4 linked regions of the Homo sapiens genome follow. The protein of the gene in region 1 purifies or fractionates together with the protein of each later gene. This does not show direct contact. Each region holds a gene or a part of one and is shown on either strand. Other genes may lie near its edges. The genes, in order: PRKAR2B, AKAP9, CDK5RAP2 and PRKACB.

Region 1 (2,647 bases):
TCTGTGATTTCAGGTTTTTTCCTTTTTTTACATTTACAACGTATCAATAAACAGTAGTGATTTAATAGTCAATAGGCTTTAACATCACTTTCTAAAGAGTAGTTCATAAAAAAATCAACATACTGATAAAATGACTTTGTACTCCACAAAATTATGACTGAAAGGTTTATTAAAATGATTGTAATATATAGAAAGTATCTGTGTTTAAGAAGATAATTAAAGGATGTTATCATAGGCTATATGTGTTTTACTTATTCAGACTGATAATCATATTAGTGACTATCCCCATGTAAGAGGGCACTTGGCAATTAAACATGCTACACAGCATGGCATCACTTTTTTTTATAACTCATTAAACACAGTAAAATTTTAATCATTTTTGTTTTAAAGTTTTCTAGCTTGATAAGTTATGTGCTGGCCTTGGCCTATTGGTGAAATGGTATAAAATATCATATGCAGTTTTAAAACTTTTTATATTTTTGCAATAAAGTACATTTTGACTTTGTTGGCATAATGTCAGTAACATACATATTCCAGTGGTTTTATGGACAGGCAATTTAGTCATTATGATAATAAGGAAAACAGTGTTTTAGATGAGAGATCATTAATGCATTTTTCCCTCATCAAGCATATATCTGCTTTTTTTTATTTTGCAATTCTCTGTATTCTATGTCTTTAAAAATTTGATCTTGACATTTAATGTCACAAAGTTTTGTTTTTTTAAAAAGTGATTTAAACTTAAGATCCGACATTTTTTGTATTCTTTAAGATTTTACACCTAAAAAATCTCTCCTATCCCAAAAATAATGTGGGATCCTTATCAGCATGCCCACAGTTTATTTCTTTGTTCTTCACTAGGCCTGCATAATACAGTCCTATGTAGACATCTGTTCCCTTGGGTTTCCGTTCTTTCTTAGGATGGTTGCCAACCCACAATCTCATTGATCAGCAGCCAATATGGGTTTGTTTGGTTTTTTTAATTCTTAAAAACATCCTCTAGAGGAATAGAAACAAATTTTTATGAGCATAACCCTATATAAAGACAAAATGAATTTCTGACCTTACCATATATACCATTAGGCCTTGCCATTGCTTTAATGTAGACTCATAGTTGAAATTAGTGCAGAAAGAACTCAGATGTACTAGATTTTCATTGTTCATTGATATGCTCAGTATGCTGCCACATAAGATGAATTTAATTATATTCAACCAAAGCAATATACTCTTACATGATTTCTAGGCCCCATGACCCAGTGTCTAGAGACATTAATTCTAACCAGTTGTTTGCTTTTAAATGAGTGATTTCATTTTGGGAAACAGGTTTCAAATGAATATATATACATGGGTAAAATTACTCTGTGCTAGTGTAGTCTTACTAGAGAATGTTTATGGTCCCACTTGTATATGAAAATGTGGTTAGAATGTTAATTGGATAATGTATATATAAGAAGTTAAAGTATGTAAAGTATAACTTCAGCCACATTTTTAGAACACTGTTTAACATTTTTGCAAAACCTTCTTGTAGGAAAAGAGAGCTCTCTACATGAAGATGACTTGTTTTATATTTCAGATTTTATTTTAAAAGCCATGTCTGTTAAACAAGAAAAAACACAAAAGAACTCCAGATTCCTGGTTCATCATTCTGTATTCTTACTCACTTTTTCAAGTTATCTATTTTGTTGCATAAACTAATTGTTAACTATTCATGGAACAGCAAACGCCTGTTTAATAAAGAACTTTGACCAAGGCTATAAATGCCACGTACATTATTTTCAGTATTGTTGGTTATATTTAAATTTTCCTTACAATAAAGCACACTTTTATAATAAAATACATGAATTATTGTTTTTCATACTTTTTTGCTTGTTTCTTTAAAGTTTTCTGACGTGCATAATGCATAATTCATTGAAAAGCATGATAGCAATGTGGCATGTGGAAGCGAACCCCCAGGGCATAACATAGTAAGAAAGTATGGTTCTGTATGGCAATAGGTTTTTAAAATTATTAGCTATTCATCATGTGTGGGAGAAATAATTGTGGTGTGTTGCAGATTTATTTGGCCATTTAGAATAACCAAATCAATCTGGCTAACTAGGAATTTATGTGTAAAATTATCTGATTAAAACAGCTCAAGTTTGACTTGTGGATGTCATTATTTAATTATTAATCAACACTCCTTACTATGTGAGAATTCTCTGTTGACCATTCATTCAAGGACAGAGCCTCTCGTGTATCATGCGTGGCTAAGGAAAGGGGTGAGGACTTTTTCCCCAAGAGTGACGGTGCTTTCCCTTATTTTAAATAAAGGTGTGTGTGTGTGTGTGTGTGTGTGTGTATGTATGTGTGTGTGTATTGTTTTCTACATATCCATATGTACTAGGGCTTAGTGCAGATATTTTAACATACACGTTACCTGTGACACAACTTAGGTGAATGTATATGTGTTACCATTAGGATTAGTATTATAAACTCTGGCTAAATGCCATTTAAAATGCTTTAAAAGGCCGGCACCATGGCTCATGCCTGTAATCCCAGGACTTTGGGAGGCTGAGGCAGGAGGATCACGAGGTCAAGAGATCGAGACCATCCTGGCCAATATAGTGAAACCCCGTCTCTATTAAAAATACAAAAATTAGCTGGGCGTGGT
Region 2 (6,953 bases), about 15 Mb from region 1:
ACTTTGGAAAATGATCATTTAAAGTTGTTTCTGATGCCAGCAATATGGATTTCACATTAAGAGAATTCTAGATTAATGTTATTAAATTACAACCGTGCTAGGAAAGTAACACTTATTAATGACTCATTAATCATTCTGTTCATTCATTAAGCAAATATGTATGAATAACTATTTGAAAGGCATTATATTATGGTGCATTAATATCAATAGTAAAGCTTTCTTAGTAATTCTATAAAATGACATAGTAGTATTTAAAACACTTTAACAAAACGTGGAAGAATATCCCCCAAATCCTACTGCAGCTCATCCCTCTTTGTACTTATCACCCAGAGTCTGTCTCTCCCACTAAACAGTGAGCAACTTGAGAGCAGACACTGTCACCACCTCTAGGTATAAAATAGGGATTCAATATACGTTTGCTGAATAAAATTATAATCCAGAGTTTTTCAGTTCTAATCTGAAAGCACACGTTTATACAAATGAAATAATGTACATACTATTTTTGATAATGCCCTTTTCACACTATTTTTCATATTCCTATCAGTCTTCATAATCTTAATGGCTTTAAAATATTCCATCATATTTATATAACTTAGAAAATGATTCCCTTCGTGTTGTCTTTAAAAGTTATTTCCAGGGGTTTTTTTTTGTTTGTTTGTTTTCTGAAACAGGATCTCATTCTGTTGCCCAGGCTGGAGTGCAGTAGCATGATGATAGCTCACTGCAGCCTCGAACTCCTGGGCTCAAGTGATCCTCCCACCTCAGACTCCTGAGTAGCTAGGACTACATACAGGCGCACACCACCATGCCCTGCTATTTTTTTTTTTTATTTAATTTTTTGTAGAGTCTCACTATGTTGCCCAGGTTGGTCTTGAACTCCTGGTGTCAAGCAATCCTCTCGCCCCAGGCTCCCAATGTCAGCATTTTTATATTGTATAGCTAATGTTGCAGCAAACACACCTTGCCTTACAAGTCTCATAGATTTATATCTTACTGGAAAAAGGGCTAAATTCTAAAAGAAGATAATCTTTTACAACAAAAATTCACCTTAAACAGGTTTTTACCCCATACATAGAATTCTGAAAGATAAAGAAACACACAAAGAAACTAGAATTGTATTTTGCCACATCAACTACAACTGCAAGCAATTTAAATAAATCCTCTATTATGAAATGTGTATGTCCAAAGTAAACCATGTTTTGTAGGACTGCTTCACATATATTCAGGAAAGACATTTCTGGGGGCAGGCAATAAAAATTGTGAGGTAACAGACAAGTAAGACATCTAATCAGATCTTCAATGCTTTTGGAGGGGCACACACTTCACCTCCACTACTTCCGTAGATGCATAGAGCTTGCTCAGCCCCTCAGATTGCACAAGTGTAGGCTTTGGACTTCTAAAGATACCCTGATTCCCCTTTCCCACCATTTATAGATTCGAAAGTAAAAATTTACCTGGCTATATACAAGCATTTAAACCTTGATCTTAAATAGAGGGAGCTTATAGGAAAGTCAACTATATTTTAGAAATATGAAGCTAGTTTTTATATATATATTCATTTAACAAACTTGTGTTGAGCTTCTATCACTGCATCTCTGCGGTATGGCCCTTCATTGATAATAAATCACTAACCTGGTTTCCTTTGTTTATGTGAGGAGAAGAGAAAGGAAGAGAGGAAAAACAGTTACCTGTAATACAATTTTTGTCCAAGTATGACTGCTAACAATTATCTCTAAAAATAATATAATCCATAAAAGAAGACTTCATTGAAGGGAGGAAGGGGGCTTTTGAGCCCAGACAAAATATATGCTCAAATATGTAATTTTTAAAAGAAATATGCTACGCAGCTTATATTCTGTATATGTTAAATTTCTCATGAAGCCCAATGAACGATGCCTGTGTATAATTGTGTATTGTATTGTTTGCTTTACAGGCTTTTCCATAACCGTTCACACACACACACACACACACACACACACAACCAGGATTCGCCAGAGAGATATATAACAACTAAATTATTTAAAGCAGGAATTCTATAGGTGTTGGCATATGGAACCTTTCGGTCCTCAGAAGTTCCATTCACAGACTGCATTAACATTCCATAGGACACAAAAGCGCATGCCATGACAAAGACCTTCAAGTACAAACATACAAAGACACGCTTCTAAAAACGCCCCTAAAGCCAAGTTCACAGCTGGCACTTGTGGCACACACAAGCCACTGCTGAGACAGCTGTCACAGGCCAATCACACACACCCAAGAGTGCCAGCGTGCTACCTAAGGAAGACAAGCTGATGATCAGCGCACAAATCCCCAACCCAATAAAGAAAAGCCCTAAATCCCCACCCTGGAAAGCACAATGCCTGCACCACCCAGAAAACTCCTTAAAAAAATGAAAGATCGGAGGTTTAGAAGCAACTAAACACTAGTTTACAGCAATACAGTAAAAGGGGAGTTTTATTTGGACATTCACGAGAAAGGAGCCACAATATTCAATCCTCGCGGAAGTATTATCAGCTAGCACAAGGCTTTGTCCCCCAACTGGAAAAAGGGGAAAGGAGGAGGGCGAGGAGAGATGCAGACCCTAAGACCCTGCAGCACCTCCCTCTCGGGCAGTGCACTGGGGCTGCGGCGAACTCCGCTTCCCAGGCCCCCTCCCACCCCGTGCTAGCCACCGCCTCCCACCGCAGGCCCGGTTGCCTCGGGCTCTCCTACCTTGGCTTTGCCGGCCTCCAGCTTCTTCTGTCTCTCCTCGTCCTCCATGGCCTCTGCAAGGAAGGCAGGGGAAAACAGGGGTTGAGGGGTGGTTGGGGATAGAAAGGAAAGGTCGATTTGGACGGAGGTGGGACGGCAAGCTCCACGGCCTAGAGAGCCGATTCGGTCCGGCGCTCCCCCGCCCGAAGTGGAAGCAGTCTCCGCGCTCACTGGCGGATCGTCCTCAGCCGCACGGGAAGCGCCGTCACCGCCGCCGCCGCCGCCATCTTCGTCTCCACGTAAACACACGGCGAGGCGGGAGGGGCTGGAACGTCTGTCCGCGCAGCCGCCTCGTGGGCAGGTGCTCCTGGGGTGCCGCCCCGGCCCAGCCCTCCGGGGTCAACCCTTGCCAGGCCTGGGACCTGCCTCCTACCAGCGAGGATCCCGCCGTAGAGAGCGCCCTTCCCGCACATCAACGGCTCACAGGTGGCGGCCGAGCTGAGGGGTAGGAGAGACGGAGTGTGCCAGAGGCTCCTGGCCTGACCCCCACCCTCCGTCCGAGGAATCCACTGCTATTAAAACATGAGTTTTTTTTTTCCTTCAGGTTACAAAACTAACACACCTAATGGTGAAATTGGCGAACACCTACAAGCTCCAACGGAAAAGTTCCGGTGGGGGGTGGTGGGGGGGCGGACGCCAGGTTTTCTACCTACATTAACTGCTTGACTCAAGAATTATGAGAGCAGCTAATTGCTCTTATTACTTCCTTAGCCTGAAAAGTCCCTCCCTCTTCCCTCCACTGGTTCCCACTCAATCTCCGGTTCATCCTTATAGTCCCATCGCACACGCTGCCTCCAAATGGCTTTTCTGACCTCTTGTTCCCTCCACGGCAACCGAGACACATCCAGTCAAAACTTAGTCCCCTCCCCCGACTCTTTGGGGCTTCCCTTTAACAGTAGTGTTCTGAAAGGAGCCTGAGCTTTAGAACCTCGGTTAGGGACAATGCCAGACTACACTAACTTTCTAGCGTTAATGACAAGTTACCTATCCTCCCTGAGCCTACCTGGAATTTTTGGAAGGGTTGTTAATATATGTGACTGCCCTGACATATTAAAACGTCCTGAATAATGTCAGCTTTATTTCTCCTTGGACTTCCTTTAAGTACCCTGCACCATATTTTAATAATTTGTGTGCGTCTTAGTTCAGCTCATACTCCCAGCTCCTTGATGACAGAGACTCATCATAAGTCTTGCTCATCTTGGCTTTACTAAAATGACCAGCACAGAGCTCTGCACTCAATAAACGCTTTTTGGATTGAATTGAGCAGTGTTTATAAATTTAACATTACTATCTTTCCTTGTTTCCCCGACATGTGCTCCCTCAGTCCTTTGTGTTCGTCTCCCTGCCCTCCAATGCTCACATCCATTCCTGGAGTGAACTACACATTTTAATGTCTCTGGTTGATTACTCAGATTTATCATGTTTCTCCGTTGCTTTGAGCTAGGTTGGACTGAAAAACTAGCAGTTGTGAACAAAAAATAGGCTAAAATGAGTTCAAGCGTAGAAGTGGTGTTAAGTGAAAAATTGAGGTTAAAAAACAAAAAAGGAGATAATAAAGACCTTAAGTCTACCACAAACTGAAGATGAGTTTTAAATAGCCCTCATTTAGAAATCTTAGCTTTAAAAAAGATTTTTTTCTTAAGCTCCGTAATGCATACATTCTGCCAACTTCTAACAGCCAAGTGCATATTGTCCTGTTATCTCAACCTGAATTAGGAACCAGGTAAAATTAGACATTTTATCATAGGGATGAAAGAATTGAGGCAATAAGTGATTTACTTAGTCACCCATCAAATTAAGAGTAAGGACTAGAACTAAGTGTTCTAATAGTGCAGTGATTTAAATACTGCCTGGATTGAGGGATTATGAGTGTAGATGCTGATTGCCTAGGAGGGGGAAGCCCCAGGGTATCCAAAGCTATTCCTGTTTGTTAAAGGATACTGCTTTCTCGGTGACTAAATAAGTCAGCTGTTTGTAGGTGCTGAGAATGTTCAAGAATACCTTCCAAAGCAACAAGATTATTTCAATGTTTCCTTCACTGATAGCAGCCAATCATATACATGTCTAGTTTACATAATGGGTGCTCAATCAATGTTGAAAGTTAGATTTGTGTTAACTTCTATTAGAAGAGCAAGCATTGGGCACTAGTGTTCTGACTCTTCCTTATGGCACCTATTCTGTCATAACTTGTCATACCAATCATTAATTCATGTCATGTCATTCACTTACTCAGGTGATTCTTTCAGAAGATATTTCAGCAAAGACTTGAAAGAGATGAGGAGGCTGGGCGGGGTGGTGCACGCCTGTAATCCCAGCACTTTGGGAGGCTGAGCGGGGTGGATCGCTTAAGCTCAGGAGTTCGAAACCAGCCTGGGCAACATGACGAAACCCTGTCTCTACAAAATAAATAAATAAATAAATAAAAATAAAATACTGGGTGTGGTGGCGGGAGCCTGTAGTCCTAGCTACTCCAGAGCCTGAGGCGGGAGGATCACTTGAGGCCGGGAGGCCAAAGCAGTGAGCCCAGATTGTGCCACTGCACTCTAGAGTAAGGACCTAGACAACAGGTGACACTGTCCCAAAAAACAAGCAGGTGGTGGGTGGGGGTAGAGAGCCACGGAGATAGTTGAGGGTACAGCAAATCCAAAGAAAGGCCCTCAAGCGAGACCATGATGGACCTTCTCAAGGAAGAGTAGGAGGTGAGGGTGGCTAGAGTGGAATAAACAAGGGAAATAGTAGGAGATGAAGTCAGAAAAGTAACAGGGGGCCAGATCCTGTAGAGTTCTTTTCTTTCTTTCTTTCTTTCTTTTTTAAACGGAGCCTCACTGTGTCACCCAGGCTGAATGCAGTGGCCCAATCTTGGCTCACTGCAACCTCCCGGGCTCAAGCAATCCTCCCACGTCAGCCTCCTGAGTAGCTGGGGCCACAGGCGCACTCTGCCATAGCCAGCTTATTTTTGTATTTTTTGTAGAGGCAGGGTTTCACCATGTTGCCCAGGCTGGTCTGAAACTCCTGAGCTCAAGCAATCCGCCCGCCTCAGCCTCCCAAAGTGCTGGGGTTACAGGTGATCCACCATGCCCGGCTTCAGATCCTGTAGAGTTCTAAAGGTCATTGTAAGGACTTCAGCTTTTACTCTGGGTAAGATTAGGAGCCATTGGAGAATTTTGAGCAGATGAATGACATGATTTGGCTTATGTTGTTCACGGACATTTGGCTGCTATGAGGAGAAAGGGGGATCAGTTTGGATGTTATTTCAGTAATCCCAGATAATGGGAATTTGGGCCATAGTACTGTAGTGGAGGAAAAGATATGGAATCAGATTCTGGATATCTTTTGAACATAGAACCAATAGTATCATAGGAGTTGTATATTGGATATGAGGTTTGAGACAAAAAGAAAAGTCAAGGTTGACTCCAACATTTTTGGCTTGAGCAACTGAAGTGATGAAGTTGCCAGTAACCAAAATGGAGAAGAGAAAATCTGGGGACCAAGTGTTCAGTTTTGGACATGGTAATTTAGACATACACATTAGGCATCCAAGAACTGATGTCACCCTAAGACATCAGTTAGTCTGGATTCAGGAGACAGGTCCAAGCTAGAAATAGAAATGTGAGAGTAGTCAGTATTCAGGATGTAGATGGTATTTTAAGTTAAGGAATTGGATGAGATAATCTAGGGCCATGCTATTCAATACAACAGCTATTAGCTAGTCTGAATTGAGATGTGCTGTAAGTGTAACACTTTGGATTTGGAAGACTTAATATTAAAATAAAATAACAAAATATTGCACTATTTTTATATTATTAAAATGATTATATTTGGGACCTATTGGGTTTAATAAAATATATATTAATTTCACCAGTTTCTTTTTTTTTTAAATGAAGTTACTACAAAGTTTCAAATTACATATGTGGCTTGCATTTGTGGCTCACATTATTTTTCTATTGGACCATGCTGCTTTAAGGAGCAAGTTTAGATAGAAAGGTGTTACAAAGACTGAGTTTTGGAATACTTCAACTCTAAGAGGGAGGCAAGGTGAGCAGAATCTGCAAATGAGACTGAGAACAGTGGCTAGATATGTGAAAGGAATCAGTAGCCAAGCGAAGAAAGTGAAGGAGGAGGGAGTGATGAACCAAGACAACTGCTACTAATAGGTCACGTAAAATGAGGATTGGATATAGCAAGGTGAAGGTCACTGG
Region 3 (7,223 bases), on another chromosome or scaffold:
GGAGGGTTCTACCCAAATGAAAAACATCTGACTGCAAGCTACTTCCTCCCAGCCATTTGATATGACCTTGTCTGAGGAAATAATAATGCCAGCTTTGTGGTTGGGTGGCTGTTGTCAAGGAGATAGCCCCAGATAGCCCAAACAGCTGGTGGTAGTGACGTCACCTCTAGGTTTGGCAGAAAGATCATGGTGAGACAGAGACAGGACAAAGGCCTCTGTCTCTGAACATGAAACCACTACAGTAGCAGGAAAACCAACTTCCAAATAGCCTTTCCTTTGTGCAATTGATTCTATTTTCAGTTTCTAGGTTCACTAAAGGGTTTAGCACGCAACCCAGGGACATGGTCATGCTGAACAAGGCAATGGACTAATCATAATGAGAGATCCTAGGCTGGGCGTGATGGCTCATGTCTATAACCCCAGTACTTTCTGACGCTGAGGTGGGAGGATCATTTGAGCCCAAGAGTTCGAGACCAGCCTGGGCAACATACCAAGACCCCATCTCTACTAAAAATAAACAAATTAGTCCGGCATGGTGGCACCTGCTTGTGGTCCCAGCTACTCGGGAGGCTGAGGTGGGAGGATCACCTGAGCCTGGAAGGTGGAGGCTGCAGTGAGCTATGATCACTCTTATTGTACTCCAGCCTGGTTGACAAAGCAAGACCCTGTGTCCAAAAAAAAAATTAAATAAGTTAAAAAAACAACCCAACTCCTCACAGGTTCTTTCATCTTCAATAATGTCTAAGGTATTCAATTAGATGAGGCAACCATGTGAACTCAGCATTGTCCTCCCCATTTTACACATGAAAATCGAAGTGTAGCAAGGGGAAGGAACCCCAGGTCACAGGATAAATGGGAGGAGTTTCCAGAGTCAGAATCCAGGTGTCCAGACTTCCAGTTCTGTAAACTGCCCACACTAAGATTCACCTCTTAGCCACTTTGAAGCAGTTTCCCAAGGAGTAGAGTCTGGTGAACACAACCCTTAAATACTGTCGTCTGGATGTAGACCTTGCCTCTTAGTACTAAATTCTAAAGCAAAAGAGAAACCCAAATGGGGATGACAGGTTGCCTGAAACAATCAAGGTGTTGGAATTCAAAGGGCCCTGGTCTCAATTCCAGCTCTGGCACTTACCAGCTGTAGGACCTTCAGTAAGTAGTTTTTACCTTTTGCAGCCTCAGTCTTCTCAATTGTAAGTCAGATAGTAGCGCCTCCTGCAGAAGGTTGTTGGGAGGGTTAAATGAGGTGGTGCATGTAATATGCCTGGAACAAGTGACGTATAAGACATGCTCAAAATGTATAAGTTCTCTTCCTTGTTTATATTCTCAAGAGTTTTCATTGGCTGGAGATGCAAAGTTAGTTCTTTCATGTGGGAAGTGTTAGCCTCCCTCCCCAGGAGAGAGTTGGTTGTATGTTAGTAGCTTTGAAATAAACACAGAAGCCAGGCACAGTGGCTCACACCTGTAATCCCAGCACTTTGGGAGGCCGAGGTGGGTGGATCACCTGAGGTCAGGAGTTCGAGGCCAGCCTGGCCAACATGGTGAAACCCCGTCTCTACTAAAAATACGAAAATTAGCTGGGCGTGGTGGCAGGTGCCTGTAATCCCAGCTACTTGGGAGGCTGAGGTGGGAGAATCGCTTGAATCCAGGAGGTTGCAGTGAGCTGAGATCGCGTCACTGTATTCCAGCCTGGGCAACAGAGCAAGACTCCATCTTAAAAAAAAAAAAAAAAAGAAATGTAGAAATCACCTCCAGAGCTGTAACATCCTGAGAGACCCTGAGAGGTTCAGCCCTCTCATTTAACAGATGTAGAAGCTGAGGTCCACAGAGAAGTGATTGGCCAGGCCGGGTGGGGTGGCTCATGCCTGTAATCCCAGCACTTTGGGAGGCTGAGGTGGGTGGATCACCTGAGGTCAGGAGTTCGAGACCAACCTGACCAAGATGGACAAACCCTGCCTCTACTAAAAATACAAAACTAGCCGGACGTGGCAGTGCATGCCTATAATTCCAGCCACTTGGGAGGCTGAGGCAGGAGAATCGCTTGAACCCGGGAGGCAGAGGTTGTGGTGAACCGAGATCGTGCCATTGCACTCCAGCCTGGGCAACAAGAGCAAAACTCCATCTCAAAAAAAAAAAAAAAGGTGATCTGCCAAAGATCACAGAGTTGGTGGCAGAGCCAGGGTGGGAATCCTGACACCCCAACTTCCCTGCTTTTGGACACACCTATCTCATGGGTTGAACTTACTGGCAAGGAGTATTGGTTCCTGGGCTTCAAGGACTGCCCCGTTCCTGAGGCAGTGCACCAGGTGTGCTAAGCTTTCCCTCTTTTTCATGCTTTTATCATTGCTAATTGTGGGTGTGGTTGAAGATCTAGAGAAAGAAGGGGGACAGGCAAATAATCGCGGGCTTTGGAAGCCTAACTAAAGCTGAGAGAGAGACAGAGAGAGAGAGAGAAAGAGAGAGAATGAATATGAATCTGGGATACACAGAATTACTATTGACAGAGGTCCTAAAAGTATCTCTGATTATTCTCACAAAAACCTTGCAGGATAGGTATTGGCCTTATTTCCAGACTGATTGATTGAATCACTCATTCATTTAACATACATTTTCAAATAGCTGCTGAGTGGCAGACATAGTGCTAGGTGTTGAGGATATAGCAGTGAACAATTCAGAATATAGTCCCTGCCCCATGCAGCTTCCAGTCTAGTGCAAGGAAAGACATTTAAAAAATGATTTTACACACACACACACACACACAAATTGCAAAATATGGTAAGTGCCACAAAGGAATAATTTGCATTGCTAGGAATACAAGAAGTGGCTTGATTTAGATTAAATGACTAGGGAAGGCTTCTTTTGAAAAGTATCAATAATTGGTTAATTACTTAACTGAAGAATGAGGGCCTGGTGCAGTGGCTCAGGCCTATAACCCCAGCACTTTGGGAGGCCAAGGTGGGAGGATTGCTTGAGGCCAGGAGTTCAAGACCAGCCTGGGCAACATAGTGAGACCCTGTCTCTATTTAAAAAAAAAAAAAAAAGAATGAGGAAACAGGGTGAAAGGGGAATTGTTCAAGATTACTGGGAAAGTCACTATCTATCCACTCACCAACCATTTCAAGTTATTTTCATCGGGCTCTCTCACAAGGGCCTGCAGAGGAAGGAGCAACACTGAGTTGAGGAGGGGAAGGTTAATTTCATTGCTTAAGCTCTGCCAAGATTATCTAAGTGTTTGGTGATTGCTATGTGCTTTAAGAAAGGCAGCCAAGGGGCCGGTGCTGTGGCTCACGCCTGTAATCCCAGCAGTTTGGAAGGCCGGGGTGGGCAGATCACGAGGTCAGGAGATTGAGACCATCCTGGCCAACATGGTGAAACCCCGTCTCTACTAAACATACAAAAATTACCCGGGTGTGGTGGCGCAAGGCCGAGGCAGAAGAATCGCTTAAACCCAGAAGGTGAAGGTTGCAGTGAGCTGAGATCGGGCCACTGCACTCCAGCCTGGCGACAGAGGCACCATTTCAAAAAAAAAAAAAAAGAAAGGCAGCCAGGGTTATGCAGAGAGCCCTCATCTAGTTGGCAGGAGCTGCAGACCCCCACTCCAGTTGAAAGACATTGTCAATACTTAATTACTTTGGGAGAGTCCTTTCCTCTTGCTGGCCCTCAGTTTTCTGACCACAGGTGCCTTTGAGTCCTAATGGTAATAAAAGACCAATAGGTGAGAGACTGGAGTGGGAGTGCTGTTGACCACTGGCTCATGGGAATGAGTTATTTGCTTCAAACTAAGTCTGCAAATTACTGTTTGCCTTGAGATTCCGCACGTAGTATTTTTCCAAAGCAAGGCAGCACTCAGTTATCTGAGTTTCAACTTAAGGTCAAATCCCAAAGTTTTGGGGTCATTATTCTAGAAAAGCAAACACGAGGTTAGGAACTTTGAGGATTCCTGAGTGGCTGTATTCATTTCCATCTCCCGCGTAAATTAACGGACTAGGGCCCGCTTTGGCCCTCAACAAAGATGGCACCCGCCCTCGCCTCTCCCTAAGTGCCCTCACAAAAAATGGCAGCCGGCCTTTTTTTGTCTCTTATTTTTGCTTGGCTTAAGCACGGATGCTTTGCCCTTAGTTAAGATGGCACCTATCCCCGCTTCCCTGCCCGTCCTCTGGCGCCAGCCGGTCGGCTTCACTGCGTGCGCCTCCGTGACCCCGCCTCGTTTCCGTAGGAAGAAGCGCCGGGAAAGATGGCGGCGTCTGTGGTTTGAATTCCAGCGGCGCCGCCAGAGTCTGAACAAGAGCTGGGGTGGAGGGGGCGGGGACCTGGGGAGCCCGGCGGGTCGCTATCGCGGGGGGTACTAGTGGCGCCGCCGCCACAGACACCAACGCTGTCGCCACCTCTGTAGCCATGATGGACTTGGTGTTGGAAGAGGACGTCACCGTCCCTGGGACGCTCAGCGGCTGCAGGTGCGGCCGGGGCATTGGTGGTCGTGGTAACCGGGCCGGGGTTCCAGCTGGTGGGATTTCGTTCTAACGCGGCCTTGGGGTTTGCTCTTGAGGGTGTCTGGCCAGGGGCAGTGTGTGGGGTGGGTTCCTTCGGAGAGGGTCTCTGGGGGGCCCACCACCTGACACTCTGGAGGGCTGGGAGCCGCGACCTGCACCACAATTGCCAGTAGCATTGCGCCATGTACTTTGTAGAGCGTGTGAAGAACAGGTAAGGAGTTTTCTGAAAGAGTAGGACGAGGGTGGGGCCACTTGGAGTATCCCGTTAGTGGGGATTGGTGGAGAACAGGGACCTTGAGGGCACCTGATGGTTCCTTCTGGTTTGAGAGTTTGTTTTCATTATGGAGAGAGTGTAGCCGGTATGCCCAGACTTTGCTTTTTGGGTCACATAGTGGCCACCCAGGAGGCAATGGAGTGCAATGATTAAGAACCTTGGCTAGAGTTGGACAAAACTGGATTCAAATCCAGCCCTGTAAACTGACTAGCTGTGTGACCTTGGTAAAGTGATTTCACCGGCTTTCCCATCTGTAAAATGGGCTAGTAATATCCACCCAACAGAGTTGGGGTGAGGATTAAAAGAGGTGATGCCTGTCGAGCCATTTGCTTGGCAGGTGTAGTGCCTGCCACATAATCAGTGCTTAAAAAATGATCTTGTGTTGCCATTAGTGTCATTATTACTACTGTCATCAAAGGTGATATGAATCAGGGAATAATGGCCAAGAGTGGCCTCCCATGGACCTGCCCCAAGAGACTGTGGGAGTCCCCATTGCTGGTGGAGCTGGGGTCTGGTAGGAAGGCCTAACAGAGCGCAACTCTGCTCCACGGCTGGCCCCTGTGGTTGTCCTAGACTCCTGGTTGGAGAGTGAGTAGAGGGAAGAGGAGGAGAGCCCTGACGGAGAACCTGCACTGTTTATCCAGCTCTACTATGGACAAGCTGCTGCTTTTAGTCAACAGATCCTAATTGAAAGGGTGACCATGTTATTTATTGTGCTAACTGGGACACTTAAGAGTGAAAAGAGCCAGGTGCGGTGGCTCACCTGTGTAATCCTAGCCCTTGGGGAGGCCGAGGTGGGCCGATTTCTTGAGCTCAGGAGTGTGAGATCAGCCTGGGCAACATGGTGAAATCCTATCTCTACAAAAACTACAAAGATTAGCCAGGCGTGGTGGCATGCACTTGTAGTCCCAGCCGCTCGGGAGGCTGAGGCAGGAGGATTGCATGAGCCCGGAAGGTTGATGCTGCAGTGAGCTGTGTTCATGCCACTGCACTGTAGCCTGGGTGACAAAGTGAGACTCTATCTTTAAAAAAAAAAAAAAGGAAAGTGAAAATAATTAATATTTATGCCCGGGCAGCAGACATAAAGAGGGCCTATCTTGGGTAAACCTGGACAAATGGTTTTTCTGTTTATTGAGAACCTTCATGTATGAGGCACAGACTAAGATGCTTTGCAGTTCCTGTCTAATTGGGTCCTGTGATATTTCATCATGCCCTTTTCTATCTATTTTACATCCACTGCCCCAATATATTGGGAGTATGGCTTCTCTCTTGTATTGTCCTTTGCACCTCTAATAGTTTTTTATACTACAATTTGAAAACTATTTTTTATTTATTTATTTTTTTGAGACGGAGTCTTGCTTTGTGACCAGGCTGGAGTGCAGTGGCGCGATCTCGGCTCACTTCAACCTCCGCCTCCCGGGTTCAAGCAATTCTCCTGCCTGAGCCTCCGGAGTAGCTGGGATTACAGGAGTGCACCACCGTGCGTGGCTAATTTTTGTATTTTAGTAGAGACGGGATTTCACCATGTTGGCCAGGATGGTCTCCATCTCCTGATCTCATGATCTGCTCTCCTTGGCCTCCCAAAGTTCTGGGATTACAGGCGTGAGCCACCGCGCCCGGCGTGAGAACTATTTTTTAAATATAAATCTGCTCTTCACAGTCTGCTGCTTTATACTTTTAATGCTGCTTATTGCTGTTATCATAACTTCCATTATTATTCTCTCAGATAGCCATTCTTATTTCAGTGCTTTTTGGCCAGACACTTGGGTTTTGGGGTCCCAGGCCTAGCTGGGTTTTAATCCCAGTTCTGCTACTTAACAACCCCTTGATCTGGGGCAAGTCACTCATCATCTGTGAGCCTCAGTGTTTATCATCTGTAAAAGGGGTTGGTATAAAGCCTAGGGTTGGCATAAGGATTAAAATGAATCTTAAAAAGTTTAGCTCAGTGTCTGACCCAGAGTAACTACTCAACAGATCAGCAAATATTCTCCTTTCCCTCATCTCCCTGCCTTTGCAGGACGTAGATACTGCATACATTCCATCTTAACCATTTTAAAGCATGGTTCAGTTGTATTAAATATATTTGTATTATTGCTCAACGGTCACCACTATCTATCTTCGTAACTCTCCATCTTGCAAAACAGAAACTGTGTCCCTGTTAAAACAGTAACTCCCTATTCCCCCCTTCTCCCAGCCTCTGACAATCACCATTCTACTTTCTGTCTCTATGATTTTTTTTTTTTTTTTTTGAGACAGGGTCTCGCTTTGTTGCCCAGGCTGGAGTGCAGTGGAGTGATCTTGGCTCACTGCAACCTCCGCCTCCAGAGTTCAAGCAATTCTCATGGTTCAGCCACTTAGTGGCCGGGACTACAGGCATGCCCCACTACGCCTGGCTAATTTTTGTATTTTTGGTAGAGACGGGGTTTCACCAGGTTGACCAGGCTGGTCTTGAACTCCTGGCC
Region 4 (7,469 bases), on another chromosome or scaffold:
CACTTTGGGAGGCTGAGGTGGGCGGATCACGAGGTCAGGAGATTGAGACCATCCTGGCTAACACGGTGAAACTTTGTCTCTACTAAAAATAATTAAAAAATTAGTTGGGTGTGGTGGCATGCATCTGTAGTCCCAGCTACTTGGGAGGCTGAGGCAGGAGAATAGCTTGAACCCAGGAGGCGGAGGTTGCAGTGAGTCGAAATGACACCACTGCACTCCAGCCTGGGCGACAGACTGAGACTCCGTCTCAAGAAAAAAAGGAAAAAAAAATAGAAGATTTACACTATCAGATTTCAGACTTACTAGAAAGCTATGGTAATCAAGACAGTATAGTATTGGTGAAAGAATTGACACATATATAGGTCAGTGAAAGAGAATAGAGAGTCCAGAAATAGACTCACACAAATATGGTCAATTGATTTTTGACAAAGGTGCAAATGCAATTCAACAGTAAATGGATATATAAATTGTGGTAATTCCATACAATAGAATTTAGCCATATAAATGAGTGAATATTAAGATACACAACATAGATAAATCACAATTGCCATACTATACTAAATGAAAGAAGCCAATCTGAAAATGTTGCATAGTCTATAAGTCCACTTATATATAACATTCTGGAAAAAGCAACACTATTACCCTAAAACCTTTATTTGAATAGCAGGAGTTATAGTCATGTCATTTGTCCTCTACATGGAGCACATACATCATTTACACATTAAATATGTTTTCATGTTTTTCTTTTATTTAACCTTTAAACTCTAAAGTACATAGTTCTGCTTGGCCCCAAGATGATTGTAAGAAACATGGACAATGAAATTTTATGGCTATAGGTGACCGTCTTAATTAAAACCTTCTCATAGCAGATTTTCAGACCTGGGACAATATATCCAAGAATGAATCTTACCCACCACTATTTTTTCACCCCAACTTCTTCACTCTTATTTGGAAAATAACTGCATTTAAAAATAAAATGTTTACTTCATGTGGTAATCAGTGTCTTGCAGTACAAGAAACCCTGATCTAGGAGTTTGAAGACCTAGGTGACTTTGGGCAAGTCACTTAATGTTTATTTTTTTGCATCTTAAAATAAGGATAATAATACCTGTGCTGCTTACTTTATTTGTAAGGATCTCAGGTGCATTACAGTAATTTCACAATGGTTTTACAGAGTAAATCACTTTATATGTGGTAAAGTGCTTGGTAAATGTGTCATCACTATTATTAAATAAAAGAAACCAATATTTTGTGGTATTTTGTGGCAATTAAAGCTGGTTCAACTCTGAAAATTTCTATAATTTTAAAAATTAATGCAGAATGAAGGAGGAATAAAATCAACCTCATGAAGTTGATTACTCTCTAGTTTTAAAATCTTATTTAACTACAAGATAAGCTATTCTGGTAAATTCTCGGTGCATGGCGAGACATTTAGTGCGAATTAAAGTTGTGGAAACACCGCTAGGAAGAATAACAAGCAATATACTTCTTAAAGTTAATTGCAGTTATGAAGGAATTCATAGTTTTAGTTAAAACTGCAGTTGTTTCTTTCTAGCAGTAGATGCCAGTAGAGTTCTTCTTTTTATTTTTATTTCTTAATCAAAAATCAAATATCCGAAGTACTTCTATAGCAATAGCTTCCTGGTCACATTACCACATATAGAAACATTGCTTTAAATATTAAATATTCTATTTTCTGGAAGGACTTGATAACAAATTGAAACAATTTTATTTTTAAAACAGTGCAGATTTAAAATACGGTGTTTTCAAGATACTCATCTAGTGAAGTTTACTCTTTTTGCTTTAGTAATTTTGTTTTAAAGCTTATGCATTGTTTTAAATAAAGTAATCTTAGTGTTCTAGTTAGGAATCTGCAACTTCTGTACTTGAGCAACATTGAATATAAATAAAAAATCTGGCTAGATGTGTTAAAAATGAATACGGTCCAGCTGAAATGTTACGATTAGTTTGTGTATTTGGCAATGGAATACCATGAGTGTAATACTTTGGGGAGGTTAATATGTCAGAGAGGTGAATGATTAAAGGGGGTAATTGGAAGCGGGGAAAACAAGAAGTTAAGAAGTCCACATTGGCACTGAGTAAAAATGTAATTCAAAGAATGAATAAAATTTAGTAACAAATAGAAAAAAGGAGAAGTTCAATGATAACAGTTCTATTACTCTTGTCTCTATATATGAGCAACTTGGTGCTTCTTGGATTATCTATAAATATGGTCCCATCATAAATAAAATTCAAACATTTTCAAGTATTCGGTGATTCTACTTAGACCTTTAAATTGTTAAAAATGAGTGAATACTTTTTTCTTTTAACATGTTTATTGAGTATGTAATACATGCATTTCATTTATGAATTCAAGTAACTCACAATTTAGGGTCATATAAATTCATAAACAGTACCTTTTAACATAATATTATGAGGTCAGTGAAAACAAAGCAGCAAAGTTTGTTTTCCTAGGAAGTATGTGGCAGACTTCACTGAAGAGGTGACATTTGAACTAAGCCTTGAAGATGATTAGAATTTCCTTCAGTAGAGCAAATCAAGGGAATTCAGTAATTTTATCCACTTCTTCCCTTACAGAATCAGTCCATGCTCTGTAGATATTTGTTGAAGACTACAGACATTTAATAAGTGTCTGTTTTGTGTAAGGCACTACCAGATGTTAAGAAACAAATTATTGTTATGCACACATAATATTTATACATAAAGCTACAAATTTAAGAATTTTGTCATATAGATGCTGTTGCATATTTGTTTAGATTGATAAAAATTTTATTACACAAAACAAAGTATACAGAAATGAGCTGTTACATGGCAAAATTCATTGGTCAGTGTTTTGTTAACTGTTATTCACACATAATATTTATACATAAAGCTATAAATTTAAGTTTATCTTATAGATACTGTTACATACTTGTTTAGATTGATATGAATTCCATTACACAAAGTATACACAAATGAACTGTTAAATGGCAAAATTCACTAATCAGTGTTTTCTTATTGGCCTTTTATGTAGTCCTAATTTGATTACATTATTGTTCCTATTTATTTTACTTATCAGTATTGTTTCTATTTTTTATGTTTGTCAAACAGTTGGCAGTAAATCTGAAGTAAGATTTTTTTAGATAGATTGTTTTAGATAGACCTTTTTCTTTCTTTCCTTTCCTTCCCTTCCCTCCCCTCCCCTCTGCTTCCAAAGAGAACCACGGAAATTTCTTATCCTTTAGTGTCAAAAAAACAAGTACTCAAAATTTTTGTTAAATGCCACAGGTTACTTTCTTTCCTGAAAATTGACAAGGCAAGTTTTACTTACTTTTAATCAAAAGAGATGTTTTGGCCAGGCGCGGTGGCTCACACTTGTAATCCCAGCACTTTGGGAGGCCAAGGCGGGCGTATCGCTTGAGGCCAGGAGTTTGAGACAACTCCTGACCTGGCCAACATGGAGAAACCCCATCTCTACTGAAAATACAAAAATTAGCCGGGCATGGTGGTGCGCGCCTATAATCCCAGCTACTCGGATGTCTGAGGGGCGAGAATCGCTTGAACCTAGGAGCGGAGGTCGCAGTGAGCAGAGGTCGCACCACTGCACTCCAATCTGGGAGACAGAGTGAAACAACGTTTAAAAAAAAATAGAGAGGTGTTTCTAAGTGAGATCACTAAATCAGGGGTTTAGGTAAGTAGTAGTCTTCAGTGGTAAGGTTTTAAAATTAACATGTCTCAGCCAACTAGAAGGAACTTTTTTCTCTCAATTGAAATTTCTTGCTATGGTGGATTTTATATAATTTAAATCTTGTATTTTGTTCTTTTCAAATTTTAGAATGTTTTAAAATGTACCCCTGGTAATAGACATATGTCAGCAGATTATAAGTTTGATAAGCAATACTGACATACTAAGTGTATGTAGTTCCTGTATGTATTAGGCCTAAATCAATGAATTAGAAACATTCAATTTTTTAAAGTGCTATTTCACATTGTTTTATTTATACGTGTTATAAATTTGTTTTGCAAGAGTTTTTTCATACCCATTTCATACTAGTTTTTTTTTATGAAAAGTTAGCTGCTTATAAGGATTCATAAAATCTGTATATTAGTTGATTTCCTAGAAAAAATACAACCTGTCTTTAGCATGTTGTGTTTGGAGGACAGCTTGGCCTTCAGTTGTTTGCATAGACTTGTCATACATGTTTAACTAGTTTTCTTTTTAAAGAATGTTTAGCCTACTATATATATAAAGCTTTATATTTAATGCTCTCATTAGCCTATATATTAATATTAAAACACCCAAACATAAAGCCTTTTAGGCAGATATTGCAAGTTTTTAAAATCCTCAACTCTAGCTGAAAAGTGTTTTGCTAAGAAAAGCTCAGTAATGTGCTGTTTTATATTAACAGGAAACAGAACAGCAGTAGTGGTTTGAATACCCTGCAAACAGGAAGTTTGACACATGCATAGCTCTTAGCTTCTGTGTAAGAAGTTGTGAGCTCCTTCTGGAAACATTTGCAGTTACATTAAGTAAAGTGTAAATGCACATGAATGGCAGCTTATAGAGAACCACCTTGTAACCAGTATACAGGTACAACTACAGCTCTTCAGAAATTGGAAGGTTTTGCTAGCCGGTTATTTCATAGACACTCTAAAGGTACTGCACATGATCAGAAAACAGCTCTGGAAAATGACAGCCTTCATTTCTCTGAACATACTGCCTTATGGGACAGATCAAGTAAGTTTTGTTTTTTAAATGATACATTATAACTAGCAACTAAAATGGTAATTGGAGTTTTACAATCAAACATAAAGAACCCTCTTTTGTTTGTTGTTTTCTGATTTTCACAAGGACATTTTGCAAGATGAAGTTGAAAGAATTCCATAAAAACTTGATTATAAGTTGAGCTGAATCATTCAGCTTTCATCATTGTATGGTTTTATTTTTGACTAAGTTCAATATCAGTGACAAGATTTTCTATAAAATTCTTACATCATTTCTAATGTACTTTTTTTTGTTGTTCTTACATAAAAATGAAATACTTAAGTTTCAGAAACAACCATCTGTTTACTTCTTAAAATGTCTTGTATTTATAAGCTTTAAACTTTGAAAGGGGCAACAAGACTCTTGAATTTATAATTACATTTCTATTGTGTTTGCCATGGTTTTATTTTTAAATGCATGTGAGAAAGTTATTTCAGTTTTACAAACAGGAATTTCTAAAATAAAACATAATTATTCTATCTAAATTCTTACACTTATAACATTATGGATATCAAAAACTTTATAATTATATTTTATGTTATTTATACATATGACTCAAATGCAGGAAAAGTTGGTTATGCATGAATCACATTCTTTCAGGCATGTTAAAATGTTTGAACTTGCAGCTTTGCTAAAATGGTGCTGGGGAACCATTTTTGGTGCCATACACTCTAAAAGATAAATTGCACATATAAACAATACTAGTGCCGCCATTCTACATCTCACCTTGGACCCTCCTCAAGGTATTTCTGTGACTCCAATTAGAGGAACAATAGAATTACCCTTGAAACTTTTGCCCTCTTTGGTGTGTTTGTTTGATCATCAAATAGCACTAGCGTTTGACTCTTTCTGTTTATGTATTTGGTAGCAGTTAAGGAAGAAAACTCAGCTTAACAACCACAACAGCAAAATCAAGAATGGCTTACAAAATTTACTCCTAGGTTTATACAGCACCTTGACAGTGTTATAGAAGCTTATTTGAATTAATTTTTTACTAAATCAGAAATTTTTTTACATTCTTCAAACTATTTTTGGGAGATTGAGGAAGAACATGTATTTGTGCATTTTTTCCACTTAAAAGGTTTTGGGTTATTTATAGTCTTTACTGTATAGCAAGTTGATGGATGAGGAATATGAATATATATCTTCAAGTTAATGAACTGTTGAATATTAAAATAGTGGTATAATATTAAACTTTACCATGTAACAAAAGCTTGTTAATTATTGTCCTTGCCCTATTCTTTTAAATTGCAGTCTTTTAAATCCTTTTGGAAATTATTTTTATGCATTTCAAGTATGTTTTAATTTAAAGTTAAATGAGGAATTAAGACAGAATTGAATTAATTTCTGTTTCATTAATACCTGCTCTTCATATAGTGGGTGTTTAGTAAAAGTGTCTCAAATAAATGAATGTTAGGGGTTTTTAATAATTAAAAGTTATGTTTGAACTAGACTTTCACCACTTTTTAAATGTATGGGATCTGTGATGCTTTCTAAAACATATTTTAAAATCTAGTAATGGAAAATAGTATCATGAGCCATGATTTCTATTGGATAAAATGCTGTTTTGTTTTTTTTTTATTGTGAAGTCAAAACAAATAGGATTCTTGTACACAAATAAAATTAGGAGCAAACCATGTAGCGCTGCAAATAATATGCATGATGTAAGAAATACTTAAAGAGTAACTGAATGTTCATTAATTAAGCATTCCTCTACTTGACTCTCCTTTTTATATCCCTGAATACCATAATAGAGATAATAATTTTATGTCTAAGGATGAGTATGGTAGCATGAAGCTATAATTTCCTATTATGAAATGTATTATTGTAGAGGAGAAAACACTGATAGAGCTGAAATAGAGGAATCCGATCATTTCAAAATTCCAAGGTTTATTTTTGTGGTGAAAACACAATTTTTATTTATTTGGCGAATGAGTTATAGAAGGAGTTCTGACTGTACAAAGTTTCATATGAACCACATTCTTCAAAGCTACTTAAAGCAGTTTACTTGCATGACTCATTTGACAAGGGAATGTAATGTCTCCTGATGATAAACACTGAATATGTTTGTTCCTAAAGTGTTTTTATAATGAAATAAACTAAGCATAGAAACTACATCAATTTACAAAAAAAATTCATAAACCTTTGTATAAAGATCAGTTACCAATTTAGGAGACATGAAATGCAGCATGCTTCAATCCAAGTTTCTTTCGTGTCCAGTGACATTATGTATAGGAAGAAACACAGAACAAAGGCCACATAGTGGTCTCAGGTGTTTCATCTTTTACTATTAAACTAAGTAACAGAAATTCCTGTTTGATTAAATAAATATGTAACAGCTAATTGCATGCACATATAAATACATGAAGTTCAAAGAAAAGCATGGAGGAATTCTGCTTTTTGTTCCAACTCAGAATGAATGAGAGCATTGACATGCGTTAAGTTCTCTTTCTAGCAAATTTATTATAGTTAGCTTTTTAATCTTCCTTTGATCATAAATGTGTAGAGTTATACAATGCTGACTTAATGAAGGTCTAACTACAGTATTTTAAGAAGCAAATAGGTCAATACCATCAAATACTTTTTCTTTCCCTTTTCCTATGAATTGACAGGCTATTTCTCTTGTAAATACAAATCCATTTTAGTAAATCTTAGATTTAAATATATTAAACAAATGAGCAGTTTTGATTATGGATGTCCTCTA

Evidence for each region.
Region 2: the proteins of PRKAR2B (region 1) and AKAP9 purify together in Homo sapiens (affinity purification with mass spectrometry; 5 studies listed by BioGRID and IntAct, with this or other methods). This does not show direct contact.
Region 3: the proteins of PRKAR2B (region 1) and CDK5RAP2 purify together in Homo sapiens (affinity purification with mass spectrometry; 5 studies listed by BioGRID and IntAct, with this or other methods). This does not show direct contact.
Region 4: the proteins of PRKAR2B (region 1) and PRKACB purify together in Homo sapiens (affinity purification with mass spectrometry; 9 studies listed by BioGRID and IntAct, with this or other methods). This does not show direct contact.

Annotation. Positions count from the first base shown.
Region 1 is NC_000007.14:107,159,673-107,162,319, forward strand, and holds the end of PRKAR2B (cAMP-dependent protein kinase type II-beta regulatory subunit), read left to right. Parts: 3' UTR 1-2,139; downstream 2,140-2,647. UniProt on the Homo sapiens protein: Regulatory subunit of the cAMP-dependent protein kinases involved in cAMP signaling in cells. Type II regulatory chains mediate membrane association by binding to anchoring proteins, including the MAP2 kinase.
Region 2 is NC_000007.14:91,936,910-91,943,862, reverse strand, and holds the start of AKAP9 (A-kinase anchor protein 9), read right to left. Parts: upstream 3,002-6,953; 5' UTR 2,764-3,001; coding exon 2,716-2,763; intron 1-2,715. UniProt on the Homo sapiens protein: Scaffolding protein that assembles several protein kinases and phosphatases on the centrosome and Golgi apparatus. Required to maintain the integrity of the Golgi apparatus. Required for microtubule nucleation at the cis-side of the Golgi apparatus.
Region 3 is NC_000009.12:120,577,148-120,584,370, reverse strand, and holds the start of CDK5RAP2 (CDK5 regulatory subunit-associated protein 2), read left to right. Parts: upstream 1-4,203; 5' UTR 4,204-4,392; coding exon 4,393-4,451; intron 4,452-7,223. UniProt on the Homo sapiens protein: Potential regulator of CDK5 activity via its interaction with CDK5R1. Negative regulator of centriole disengagement (licensing) which maintains centriole engagement and cohesion. Involved in regulation of mitotic spindle orientation.
Region 4 is NC_000001.11:84,139,811-84,147,279, forward strand, and holds the start of PRKACB (cAMP-dependent protein kinase catalytic subunit beta), read left to right. Parts: upstream 1-4,460; 5' UTR 4,461-4,551; coding exon 4,552-4,738; intron 4,739-5,465; exon of another isoform or gene 5,466-5,508; intron 5,509-7,469. UniProt on the Homo sapiens protein: Mediates cAMP-dependent signaling triggered by receptor binding to GPCRs.